Linked DNA regions of Homo sapiens. The protein of the gene in region 1 interacts with the protein of each later gene in a pairwise test. Each region holds a gene or a part of one and is shown in the gene's direction. Other genes may lie near its edges.

Region 1 (7,000 bases):
AACCACTCCAGGGCGCGTAGGAGCTAGAGCTCCCTCCTTGCAGGGGTGCTGCTAGACTAGGCCAGGAAGTCCCTCTGTCTGGATGCACCTGGGGCTCCTGCCCTGCACATGTGGGAGGAGCACATTCCAGCCAGGGGCCTTGGTGTCTGGAGGTGGCCAGGTGGGGCTGGGGCCATCTTCACAGGGCAAGATAATCCCCAAGGAGCCTGGCCACTTCCAAGATTCTATGATTCTACTCTGCTATCATCTTTAATTATTTTAAAAAATATGTCACTGACACATAACAAATGAGGGCAGAAATGGCATTGTTCCCATCTGGGGAAGAGCCTCAAGGGTGGGCAGTATACAAAACATGACCCTTTGCCAGATTCTAACTGGTCCAGTGCCCAATCCCATTGATAGAAACTCAACCAATGCAAACCTCAGCCTGCAAGCTCCGAAGGGGCAGAGTGCAAGCCGGTAGCTTTTGCCTCCTGGAGCCCACAGTCCAGATGGGGACAAAAAAAGAGATAGGGACACAAAGAGTGATCACTGAGCCAGAGGGTGGAAAGGTGCTTAGGAGACATGAGCTGCTTGGAGGCAGAGTCCTGCTTGGAAGCTGTTGGTTGATTCCTGGGCAAGCCACTTCCCCTCCTGGGCCTGGGTTTTCATCTGTAAATGAAGGCGTGGATCCAGATCTCCCTCTAAGACTACTCCACGCCTCACGTGCCATTTGTTCTCTGAGTTTCCCATGTTCTCGCCTCCTACTACCTAGCCCTATGCTAGGACTCTCCCCTCCAGGACACAGTAGCCAGCCTAGCTTTCCCCTCCCCACCTGCCTCTAACAATGGGAAACAGGCAGGTGGTAAACAGGTGGGCAGTGGAGGTGGCCCCATGTCTCCAGCCTCCCCTGGAAGCTCCCACCCCCCTCATTGTTCAGTGCTCTGGTCCTCCTGGAGTGGAGACCTGCAGGGCCCCTCCCCTTCCTCTGTTGACCTCTCCTCACTCTCCAGGTGCCAGTTTTGCTCCCTGCCTCAGCCTGGTTTACATACAGTGTATGTGACGGGGCTTGGTCACTGCTGGGGCAGCCCTGTGGAAGGTGGAGGGGACCGAGCATGCATGAGCTTCAGGCTGAGACAGTCCCAGCTCAGAACCCTGGAGTGCTTGTTCCCTCCCTTTCTGCTCTTCCTCTTCCATTGCACCCACTGGACCCAAGAGCATGCAAGGATTGACTCACCCAGTGATGCTAGAACTATGTATTCAGCTGAAAGTAAGGGGGTGGGGGCATCCAACCAGGGGCAGAAGATGGGAATTCAAGAAAGGAAGGTTTCCCCTAGAAAACGGTTTTCGTCTTTTCTCTTAAATCCAGATAGAATAAGAAGCGAAGGCCGTTACAGCAGAGAGAAAGTTGAGTCAAGCAGAGATCAGATACTAAAGACACTAGACTAACCAGACATTCGGGCCCTCAGTTGAACAGCTGAGGATGTCAGAAGATGTTAAGGAGGCAAAATTGGAAAACTTGGTGGCTGGCAGACAGAAATGGGGGGAGATGGGAGCAGATGTGAGAAGATTTAAAGGCTTGTAGAGCTTGGGTGGTGATTTCATCCACCAAACCTATCTCTCTCCCCATTCTGGCATACAAGGCAGCAGTCAGGGTCCCCAGAGGCAGCCCATCTTTCTGGCAGGGACCCATGCTGGAGATCTGGCCAGCTGAAAGGCCCCAAAGGAGCTCGGTGCCCTGGGTAATATGGGAAGGTGCTCCATGGCACTGCCCTCACATGGAGGCCACAGAAGCCCCTGAATGGCTGCTGCAATTGGTAACGGGGACACCTGTTCAACTGAAATATCTCCTACCCTGAGATGGGTCCTTTCTCCAAGGGATCTTTACAATTACATTTGTCCCCAGTCATTCCATGTTGGGAGGCTGCAGGGACCAGAGAAGCTGAGATGGTCTTTGGGGAGGGGAAAGGAAAGATGGACAGTTATTTTGGTCCTAGAAAGCCCAAAGGTGGGGAAGTGTCAAGAAGGAAGATGAGGGCACAAGAGAATGTAGGGCCACCCAGAAGCTGGCTCTCATTGCAATTACAGAAAGAAAAACCAAAATAAAGAAAGAAAGGAAAGAAGCTCCCATTTATTGAGCAGCTACTCTCACCAGCCATTCACATGCAATACCTCGTTTAATTCTCGCAGCGGCTCTGAAAGGTGGATGGTGGTATTGCCATTTGTTAGGTAGGAGACATGCCGTCCAGAAAAGCAAATAATTAAACATTCAAAGTTGACCTGGGCCCATTTGAAAATTCCTTTTGCTCCCTCATTTTAACCCCTAAAGTAAAGCCGTTTGTGACTTTATGAGCTTTTACCAAGCATCTCCTAAAACCAAGAATGGAGGTGAAAGATTGTGGAGCCCACAACCTAGAGAAAGGATTGACAATTTTTTTTCCATAAAGGGCCTAGTAGTATGTATTTTAGGCTGTGTGGTCCACATGAGGGCAGATTCTTCTTTTTGACTTCCTCCTCTGCATCTTCTTCATCTTCTCTTTCCTCTTCATTTTTTTTACAACCTTTGAAAAATATAAGCACCATTCTTAGCTTTAGGTACACACAAAAATAAGCTATGGCTGTATTGGCTTACAGGCTATAGTTTCCTGACCCCTGTTCTAGGGGAGGAAAATAATTGTACCCAACTAAATGCGTGCGAATCATGGGCCTATGTCATGATTCCCAAAGAATGAGTTTCATGGAATTTTCAACATTTTAAATATTTTACTCCATTCTTCCCTTGCTTGCATAGTTTCTGATGAGAAGTCTGCTGTCATTTTCATCCTTATTCCTTTTTAGATAAGGTGGAGTTTTCCTCCCTCTGCCTCTACCTCTACCTCTTTCAAGATTTTCTCTTTCTCTTTACTATGGTAAATAGGCCTTTAGTGAGAGGAGTTATGTCAGCCTGGCTAGGAGTCAGGCTGCATTTCAGGTTTGTGATAGCTAGAGGTACCAGAGGCAGTTTCATGGAATTTTACCTTTGCAACACTGAGAGCCTAGGCAGCCTCAGAGTCAGAACACCCACAGTTGAATCCTCAGCCTGACAGACACTGAATCCAGGGCAAATCTTAGCTGAATATTCATGGTCTGTAGAGGTGGACATGAGCTAGATATGAGCTAAGGACCATAGCCAGCTCATGGCTTTTGTGATGTCCAACACCGCTATCCTCTAAGATGTCACAAGTGTCCCTAGGCTTTTATTCCCATGGTCTCTCCTGGCTCTGAGTTCTATCTTCCATTAAGGTTCTTCCTGTTCCTCCCCTCATTCACACTGATTGGCATCTCTTCTGTCTGCCCTCACCAACTCACATACAGAACCCAGTCTCTTTCCTCTTATTTCCACCCAAAGCCCTCCCACAAGCCACTGTTATATGTTCACATCCCTGTAATACCAGTGAGTAATAATTGCTAATGAGACATTTTTCCTTTTATGGAACAAAGGCTGTCCCATTTCTCCTCAGGCACCAGCCTCCCACATGTTGTCATGCCTCTTTCCCCCACTTTCCCTAAACCTTCTTTCTCTCTTGCACTCCTTATTCCCTGGTTCCTATTGATTTCTCATTTAGCACAAGGAACTAGGTCTTTCTTTTGTGGCCCTTTTCCCAATCCAAGCCTGCTGGGCTCTCCCTCACCCCCAATAACTTTTACTCTTGCCAAGCTACTTCTCTAAACCAAAGCAGGGTCCCTCCTATGAGGGACTCTGGGCACTTCCACTGCTGCGGAAGCAGGGTCGAGCAGGGCGACCCTTGCACTCACACCTTCTCCAACTGCTTGCTCCACCTTCAGCCAAATGGGAGATGCCCTTTGACCCCCAAGATACTCATCAGTCAAGGTTCTACTTGAGCAAGAAAAAGTGGGTAATGGTGCCCATGATGAGTTTGCATCACCTGACTATACCTTACTTCCGGGACGAGGAGCTGTCCTGCACCGTGGTGGAGCTGAAGTACACAGGCAATGCCAGCGCACTCTTCATCCTCCCTGATCAAGACAAGATGGAGGAAGTGGAAGCCATGCTGCTCCCAGAGACCCTGAAGCGGTGGAGAGACTCTCTGGAGTTCAGGTGATTCTTCCTGGCCCCCAAAGACCCCACATCTCTCCACGTCAAGGTCTCACCAATGTCCAGGGACAAGGGCATGGTGGTGGGAGAACTCATACAGGGACAGGTGGAATTTACACTTACTTTGCCCTATGCTGCCTACATGGCTTTGGGCTTGATTTTTCTTTTTCTTCTTTAAGACAATGACATCAGACAGGACAAGGGGCTGAGGCTTCCTCTGACTCCAGCATGTTCTAAGTCATGAGAAATCTTCTGCACAGTCCCAAACACTCATGCATGGTTTCTCCTGGTCTCAATCTCTTGAAGGGAGAGAGAAACAGAAGGAATTGTGATCAGTTGAGGGCTGCAGTGAGATGGACTCTGAGAATCAGTTCTGCACTGGTGAACCACTGTATTTATTCATTCTCTCAGCATTTGCTGCATGATTAATTGAGCACCTACTATGTGTCAGACACTAATTTGCACCCTGAGAGTAAATCAGCAAATAAAACACAAGATTCCCTGCCCTCCTGGAGCTTAATTTGTAATTGGAGAGGGGACAGGCAATAAATAAATATAACAAATAAGTTACGTGATATATTAGAAGGTGAGAAATTGAGTAAGGGGATAGAAATTGAGTAGAGGAGGATGAAAGGATCAGGAAAACTGGAACTCGTGTTAGTTTGTGATTTTAGATAGAGTAGCCATTAGGTGATGTTTGAGCATCCATATAACAGAGGGGAGGGGTGGAGTCATGTTGGTATATTAGGGAAAAGCATTCCTGGCAGAGGGAACAGTCAGTGCAAGGCCTCTGAGGTGGAAGTGAGCTTGATGTGGTCAAAGAAGAGTCAGGCCAGAGCAGCTGGGCTTCCACTTCCTCCATCTTGTCTTGATCAGGGAGGATGAAGAGTGCGCTGGCATTGCCTGTGTACTTCAGCTCCACCACGGTGCAGGAGCAGAGAGAGTGAGGAGAGAGTTGAGAGAGGTCAGGAGTCCCCAAAGGGGTGGAGCAGCTTAGGTAGGGCCACGTAGACCCCTAGAAAACCTTGCCCTTCCTCCTGTGTGTGAAATGGAGAGCCATCAGGAGGTTTGGAGGAGTGCTGCGATCCGAGTGTTGTTTTAAAAGACTAATCCTGGCTGCTGAGAGGAGAATAACTGTAGAGCAGGTATGGAGTCAGTGACACCCGCAGGAACCAGGCACAGACATGAGGTGGGAGCCCACTGTGGCTGGGATCCAGGAGGGAGCCATGCATGTGAGAAGTCATTGAGTTCTGGATAAATCTGAGGGTAGAGGAACTTGCTGGGACACACGGAATTGAGCTGACCGATTTCATGGGGACACAGTGAGGAGGAGCAGTAGTTCCGGGCCCAGACCCTGCAGTGGGCCCAGGGAGTGCATGTGGGCAGCTGTGTGGGGTAGAGAGGAAGGAGCACCAGCCTTGGGTTCAGACCGTGGTGGCTGGTGTGACCTGGAGCAGGTCGCTGCTCTTCTCTGGAGCTCAGCTACCTCCTGAAGAGAAAGGAATGTCCTTTCCCCACCACCCCTGTTTTCACTGGGTGATTGTGAGAATCCGGTGAGGTATTGTATGTTGAAGCCATAATAAACCACTAAGGGCAAGGGAGCTGCTTCAACACTAACCTGAGGCTGCAACCCCTGCCCCAACCACTGTCCAGAAGGCCGGACACCTCTCGGGATTGCCTGACCCTCAGCCCCTCCTCACTCTAGATCCCAGGAGACCCCAGAACGTGGGGGTCCTACCCAACCCATCCGTTTACTCCCAGACTCCTTCCTCCTTTAGCACCTAATAGCCACCAGGGAGCAGGGGCTCAGCAGATAATTTTGAGTGGAAAGAATTCTCCAAACACTTTTGATTTACAAAATGCTGAGGAAACATGTGTCCACACACTCCTGGCCCACAGAGAATGCTCAATAGATACTTGTTGAATGAAGGATGGAATGAACGGACAAACACATGAATGAATGAATAAAAATAGAAATAGGACACCTTCCTCCTTCAGGGGACTCAGAGTTTAATGGAAGACACAGCCTCCTGTATAATTGTAAGACCAGGCAGACAGTGACAGGCATCTTAAGAGGGCTATAAACTAAGGGAGGGGGAGTTTGCAGGTGGCAGGTGTGACCTGGGCCTCTAGGAGCTTGCTACCTGCTCTATGCCAGCCCACACCTGGCTTGAGGGACAGTGCCCACTGGTGAGGCAAGATGGGAACCTCCAATTGATTGTTTCAGGATCCCCAAAGCTCTTCTAACACAATCAGACTCTTCAGAGGCCCCCAGGCCCTTTTTGACCTGCCTCTGGCTCCTGGCCCACCTCATCCCTCACTACCCTCCTCCCTGAAACACTGAGATCACCCACCGCCCCGTGGAGCAACTCCTCCTGCTCCCACCTTCTTCCAGGTTCTTCCACCTGCCTCCTGCCCACCTCTTCACCTAGCTAGCTCCTTTCCTGCCTTTGGGACTCAGCCTCAACACCACCTCCTACAGGAAGCCCTCCTGGTGCCCCCGTGAAGCAGGCTGCCATGCAGCCACTGCAGCTGGCCCAGCCCAGGCTCTCAACACACTCAGGGGTCCCTGCTGGTGTGAAGGTGCTTCAACTGCATTGCAAGCTGCAGGGAAAGGGCAGGGCCAGGCTCGAGCAGGGCCACAACTCCAGGCTTGGTGTGCTGCCTGGAGACTTTCACACTTGCAGATCTGAATGAATAATTAATGAATAAGAAGAGTAAAGACAGGGGTTAAGAAATTGAGGAACAGATTATTTATTTTCCAATCAGAAGGGGGTGACTGTAGAGGAAACCAGGGAAGACCATGCTGCGAGGTGGGAGGCAGGTAGGTACTGATCAGCAGAGGTTCAGATACTTTTTTTTTCTCGTTTTCTAGAGAGATAGGTGAGCTCTACCTGCCAAAGTTTTCCATCTCGAGGGACTATA
Region 2 (7,037 bases), on another chromosome or scaffold:
CAATGCTAAGACCGTGGGGGAGATCAAGCAGTTTGTTTCCCAGTTGCCCCACATGCAGGCAGCAAGGGGCTCGCTTGCAAACCATACCTCAATTGCAGAATTGATCAAAGATGTCACTAGTGAGTATCCTTTGTAATGATTGTTTCAGTCTGGGGCTACTTGCACATACAACGTTTGACACCTAGGTCATCAACACCACAATGCCTCTTCGGGAGAGTCAGCTCTGTCTTAATACCACGTGTTCTTCTCAGTGTTAATGAAGTATACATATGTTAATAGTTAAGGATATTCCAGGCGGGGCATGGTGGCTCATGCCTGTAATCCCAGCACTTCGGGAGGCCAAGACGGGCAGATCACTTGAGGTCAGGAGTTTGAGACCAGCCTGGCCAACATGATGAAACCCCATGTCTACTACAAATACAAAAATTAGCCAGGCACAGTGGTATGCATCTGTAGTCCCAGCTACCTGGGAGGCTGAGGCAGGAGAATTGCTTGAACCTGGAAGGCGGAGGTTGCAGTGAGCCGACATCACGCCACTGCACTCCAGCCTGGGTGACAGAGTGAGACTCCATCTCGAAAAACAAAACAAAAAGAATGTTCCATTTGTTGGCCAGGCATGATGGCTCACATCTGTAACCCCAGCACTTCGGGAGGCTGAGGCAGGCAGATCACTTGAGTCCAGGAATTGAAGACCAGCCTGGGCAACATGGCGAAACCCTGTCTCTACTAAAAATACAAAAATTAGCTGGGCATGGTGGCACATGCCTGTAGTTACAGCTACTCAGGAGGTTGAGGCATGAGAATCACATGAACCCTGGAGGCAAAGGTTACAGTGAGCTGAAATCACGCCACTGCACTCCAGCCTGGTTGAGCGAGACTCCATTAAAAAAAAAAAAGACTGGGCGAGGTGGCTCATGTCTGTAATCCCACCACTTTGGGAGGCCGAGGCAGGTGGATCGCCTGAGGTCAGGCATTCGAGACCAGCCTGGCCAACATAGTGGAACACCATCTGTACTAAAAATACAAAAATTAGCCAGGTGTGGTGGCGGGCACCTGTAATCCCAGCTACTCAGGAGACTGAGGCAGGAGAATTGCTTGAACCGGGAGGCAGAGGTTGCAGTGAGCCAAGATTGCACCACTGCACTCCGGCCTGGGCGACAGAGCAGGACTCCATCTCGAAATAACGAAAGAAAGAAAAAGAGAAAGAGAGGAAGGGTCCATTTTTTAACTCAAATTTTTTCATTATCATTTATATGAAAAATATTTGGAATGTAGATAAGAGAAAAAAATTATCCATAAGTTTGCCATCATAATCTGAGATGGTTAATTTTTTTAGTCTAGCTTTTTTTCTTTTTTTTTTTTTTTTGAGACGGAGTTTCACTCTTGTTGCCCAGGCTGCAGTGCAATGGCACAATCTTGGCTCACCGCAACCTCTGCCTCCCGGGTTCAAGTGATTCTCCTGCCTCAGCCTCCCAAGTAGCTGGGATTACAGGTACTTGCCACCACGCCTGGCTTATTTTCTATTTTTACTAGAGATGGTGTTTCACCATGTTGGTCAGGCTGGTCTCAAACTCCCAACCTCAGGTGATCCGCCTGCCTTGGCTCCCAAAGTGCTGGGATTACAGGCATGAGCCACCGCGGCCAGCAGCTTTTTTCCTTTTTTGAAGGATTACTTATTGGCGCATGTTCTTCCCTTGAATATTCTGTGCAGAATTGGTACAAAGAGTATATGTTGAGTATTTTGAAAGAGCTCAGAAGACATCTATTAAAGCAGACATGAGTTTGTTTGTTTGTTACAACACAGGGCTGTAAAAGCTGAGTAGGAGATTGTTTTATGAAGTATACTTCGAATCTTAAGTAAATCACAGTTATCGGAAAATCAGTCCTTTGTTTCCCTGTTCATAGGAGTGGAAACCAGTTGAAATTGGGTTGAACCTAATGATGAAAATGAAATGTTCTTGAGAAATTAGCTTTCATTCATACTGACGCTCATTCTGGGGTCTGTACTGAAATCCTAAGGATACAAAAGAGTGCACTTGTCGACTGTATCTAGTGTAACTTAGGAGTGCAGAGGCCTAGCGTTTTCCATGTTTCCTAAAAGATTTTCTTCAGGTGATGACTTGAACTTATTGCTTGCTTGCTTTTTTGCATGATGTCTGGTTTCTTTTCTTTTGAGACAGAGTCTCGCTCTGTTGCCCAGGCTGGAGAGCAATGGTGTGATCTTGGCTCACTGTAACCTCCGCCTCCCCGCCTCAAGTGATTCTTGTGCCTTAGCCTCCCGAGTAGCTGGGACTACGGGTGTGTGCCACCATACCCAGCTAATTTTTGTGTTTTTGGTAGAGATGGGGTTTGGCCATGTTGGTCAGGCTGGTCTTGAACTCCTGGCCTGAAGTGATCCACCCACCTCGGCCCCCTACAGTGCTGAGATTACAGGTGTGAGCCACCGTGCCCAGCCACATGTCTAGTTTCTGAATCGTGCTCTGTGTATAAAAGCATGCCACTCAAGTAAATTAACATTTAATTTCTAAGTTGCAAATTTGCTAATTTCATTTTAGCTTCTGAAGACTTTTTTGATAAATTAACCGTGGAACAGGAGTTTATGTCTGGAATAGACACTGATAAGGTATGTGGACAAAAAAACCTCTTTAACAAGTAATTGAAAGCTTATTAAACCTCAGATTATAGCCAGAAAACCAATTGCTTTGATTCCCATGCCTTGCCTTTTTTTTTTTTTTTTTTTTTTTTTTTTTTGAGACGGAGTCTCACTGTGTGTCACCCAGCTTGCTCTGTTGCCCAGGCTGGAGTGCAGTGGCGCCATCTCTGCTCACTGCAAGCTCCGCCTCCCGGGTTGACGCCATTCTGCCTCAGCCTCCCGAGTAGCTGGGACTACAGGCGCTCACCACCACACCTGGCTAATTTTTTGTATTTTTAATAGAGACGGGGTTTCACCATGTTAGCCAGGATGGTCTCGATCTCCGACCTTGTGATCCGCCCACCTTGGCCTCCCAAACTGTTGGGATTACAGGCGTGAGTCACTGCGCCCGGCCACTTAAATATTTTTAAGAGCAAATGCAAAATGTGCAAGTGTAGATTTTATCAAGTAACAGATATTTAACATTATTCTGTGCAAGACACTTTCTGCCATACATGGCAACATGAGACCTGGCCCCTAAAATCAAATCTTTTTAAGACTGTATTAGATAAGGTATTTGCTCTTTTGAAAGAGTTTCTTATATAACTCCTTTAAATAGCTCTATTAACAAATTTTAAATTATTCACTTTATGAAAATTCCTAACATAAAACAATTACTGATACTTTTTGCTAGATTAGTTGTTGATACTATTGAAATGGAGTAGACATCTGGTAGCCTCTCAGAAGCGTGTCCTTAGAGACAGACGTGTCCAGACAGGCATATGGAGTGACCAATTGTATTCTCAGCGGCCTTGGGCTCCAGTGACTTGGCCTGATCACTGGGGGGTGTGTGTGTGTGTGTGTGTGTGTGTATGTATGTATGTGTGTGTGGGGTGTGTGTGTGTGTGTGGTGGCCAGGGTGTGTGTGTGGCTGGGGCTAGCAGAGCTATTTCGGGGAAGGGTTAGGGACTGTGGAAAAATAACTCATTTTCCCACGTATCTCCTTTATTGGACTTTGAAAAATAATAATAAACATCAAGTTAAGTTCCTAAACCATGTATTGTGTGTGTGTGTGTGTGTGTGTGTGTGTGTGTGTGTATGTATATGTAAATGTATATGTATATGTATGCTACTTTATTTCCAGGTCAACAATTACATTGAGGATTGTATCGCCCAAAAGCACTCGTTGATCAAGGTGTTAAGACTAGTTTGCCTCCAATCCGTGTGTAATAGTGGGCTCAAACAAAAAGTTTTGGATTATTACAAAAGAGAGATTCTCCAGGTGAGTATATTTTTAAATTATTAATTTGCCAAGGGGGACAGCATCTTTTTAAAAAATACTTCATGGGCCGGGCACAGTGGCTTACGCCTGTAATCCCAGCACTTTGGGAGGCCAAAGCAGGTGGATCACTTGAGGTTAGGAGTTTGAGACCAGCCTGGCCAACATGGTGAAACCCCCATCTCTATTAAAAATACAAAAATTAGCCAGGCATGGTAGCATGCACCTGTAGTCCCAGCTATTTGAGAGGATCAGGCAGGAGAATCGCTTGAACGCAGGAGGCGGAGGTTACAGTGTGTCAAGATCATGCCCCTGCACTCCAGCCTGGGCAACAGAGTGAGACTCTGTCTCAAAAAATAATAATAAAAAATTTAAAATTAAAAAAAATAAAAATTACAAAGCTGCCATTTTGGTATCTTGTAACGACTGTTGTATAAATTTTTTAACACCTAGAGGAATTGGTCTTGGTAGCCATCACTGTTTATTGTATTTGTGTGATAATAATAGCTAACAGGCTGGGCACAGTGGCTCACCTCTGTTATCTCAATATTTTGTGGGGCTGAGGCAGGAGGATCGCTGGAGGCCAAGACCAGCCTGGCAACATAGCAAGACCCTGTCTCTACAAAAAAAATACAAAAATTTACCAGGCATGGTGGCTGTGTCTGCAGTCCCAGCTACCCAGGAGGCTGAGTTAGGAGGATTGCTTGAGCCCAGGAGTCCAAAACCAGCCTAGGCAACATAGCTTGTTTACAAAAAGTAAAAAATAATAATAATAGGTAACATTTCTTGAGCATTTACTATGTGCTAGGATCTATTGGAAAAACTTTATAGGCCGGGCGCGGTGGCTCTGTACCCTGACTCTACTAAAAATACAAAAAATTAGCCGGGCGCGGTGGCGGGCGCCTGTAGTCCCAGCTACTCGGGAGGCTGAGGCAGGAGAATGGCGTGAACCCGGGAGGCGGAGCTTGCAGTGAGCCGAGATTGCGCCACTGCAGTCCGCAGTCCGGCCTGGGCGACAGAGCGAGACTCCGTCTCAAAAAAAAAAAAAAAAAAAAGAAAAACTTTATGTGCATTCATTTGTTTCATCTTCACAATACTTCCTTGTTAACTGTAGTTACCATAACAACAACAACAAATATTCACAACAGCCTTGTGAGTTAGAGACTGCTATCGTCCCAGTTTTATGGATGAAAAACTGAGGCACAGACTAGTTTAGGTAACTCACCCAAGGTTACCTGGCTGGTAAGTGGCACAGCCAGTGGTAAACCAGGCAATTTGAGTGTAGCGCCCATGTTCTTAACTCCGCAGTTATACCACGGAGGAAAAGAACTTTCTGCAAATTTCTGATGACAGTTGCTTAGCAGGTTTACTTAAATTAAGCCTGTGTTACTTATAATAAGGAAAAGGCCACTCTTGTTTTTGAAAAGTCTCCCCTTTGTTTGAAAATGACTCAGGTAGTATTTATTTGCTGTTACCAGTGACAGTTAAGTACATTTTTATTAAAATTGAGTGCTCATTAATTTTTTGTTTTTGTCTTTTTTTAAGTTATGTATCCTTGTGTAAGAGTCAAATAATGCAGAAGTACACAGAGCAAAATGTGAACGTCCCCTGTACCTTGCTCATACCCCAGTTTCCCTCCCCAGATGTGACCAGTGTCAGCAGTCTGATTTGCTTCCTTCCAAACTCCATTCTTTGCATTTAGACAGAATGTTTCCATACACAGACTTCAGAGCAAGACTGGCTGGATCCAGGTTTCAGCTCTGCTCTTCACTAGCTGTGTGACTTTAGGCAGGTTATTTAAACATCTCTGTAAAATGAAGGTAATGATACCTACGTCATGGGGTTAGAGCCGGGATGACTGAGTTAATGTATGTAAGTGCTTAGACCAGAACAGTGCCCAGCTCATAGAAAGTATTTTATAAGTGTTGGCTACTTTTTAAAATTTATTTATTTTTTGAGACAGTATCTCACCCTGTTGCCCAGAGTGGAGTGCAGTGGCACAATCTTGGCTCACTGTAACCTCCTGGGTTCAAGCGATTCTCCTGCCTCAGCCTCCCGAGTAGCTGGGATTACAGGTACATGCCACCAGGCCCAGCTAATTTTTTAATTTTTAGTAGAGACAGGGTTTCACCATGTTGGCCAGGCTGGTCTCAAACTCCTGACTTCAAGTGATTGGCCCGCCTCGGCCTCCCAAAGTACTGGGATTACAGGTGTGAGCCAGCATGCCCAGACCTTGGCTACTTTTTAAAAATAGAAATAATGTCCTACTCTACATGTTATTTTTTTTTTAATATATTCTGGAGACCTTTCTTATCAGGATGTATACATATGCCTTACTCTTTTTTAGAGCTAATTATATCCCTTATAAAAATATACTATCATTTATTTGATGCTTGCTTAGATTGGGTCCATAAATTCTGACTTTAAAGTAAAAATTTTAAATTTCTCTTTGAAACAGTGAGCTGAATTAATAGTAACAGGCAAGCAGTTTTAGGACAAGTTTCATCCCTCCACCCTGTCCTCTGTGCCCATCCACTAACATTGCTGGACTTTGGTAACATGTCCTGCAGTACAAACCAAATTGATTTGTTGGAAGTGCCCTTCTTTGAAAATTGCAGAAATCCTTTTCCTGATCTGACATCAAGGCCAAATGACTTCCCTTGCAGACATACGGCTATGAGCACATATTGACCTTACACAACCTGGAGAAGGCCGGCCTGCTGAAACCGCAGACGGGGGGCAGAAACAATTACCCAACTATACGGAAAACATTACGCCTCTGGATGGATGATGTTAATGAGCAAGTAAGCCACACTTCTCCACCTCGTCTCAGCTTAGGGACTGGTTAGATCGTCCAGGTGACAACACATGCTTCTGAACCTACACATCTGCCTTGCTTTCTGAAAACAATTTTCTAATGTTTTTGAAAAAGTAATGTATGCATGTATTGTATCCATCAGAATCCTAGAAGGACACAGAGAATGCTCTTAAACTGGGGAGTTTCTGGAGAGTTTAATAAAGATGTGGGCTGGGCGCGGTGGCTCACACCTATAATCCCAGCACTTTGGGAGGCCGAGGCGGGCAGATCACTTGAGCTCAGGAGTTTGAGAACAGCCTGACTAACAT

What was found.
Region 2: the proteins of SERPINA3 (region 1) and VPS33A interact in binary tests that used the Homo sapiens proteins (3 or more experiments, as listed by UniProt).

What each region holds. Positions count from the first base shown.
Region 1 is NC_000014.9:94,615,391-94,622,390, forward strand, and holds part of SERPINA3 (alpha-1-antichymotrypsin precursor), read left to right. Parts: intron 1-3,804; coding exon 3,805-4,078; intron 4,079-6,950; coding exon 6,951-7,000. UniProt on the Homo sapiens protein: Although its physiological function is unclear, it can inhibit neutrophil cathepsin G and mast cell chymase, both of which can convert angiotensin-1 to the active angiotensin-2.
Region 2 is NC_000012.12:122,235,464-122,242,500, reverse strand, and holds part of VPS33A (vacuolar protein sorting-associated protein 33A), read left to right. Parts: coding exon 1-119; intron 120-2,555; coding exon 2,556-2,623; intron 2,624-3,776; coding exon 3,777-3,914; intron 3,915-6,577; coding exon 6,578-6,715; intron 6,716-7,037.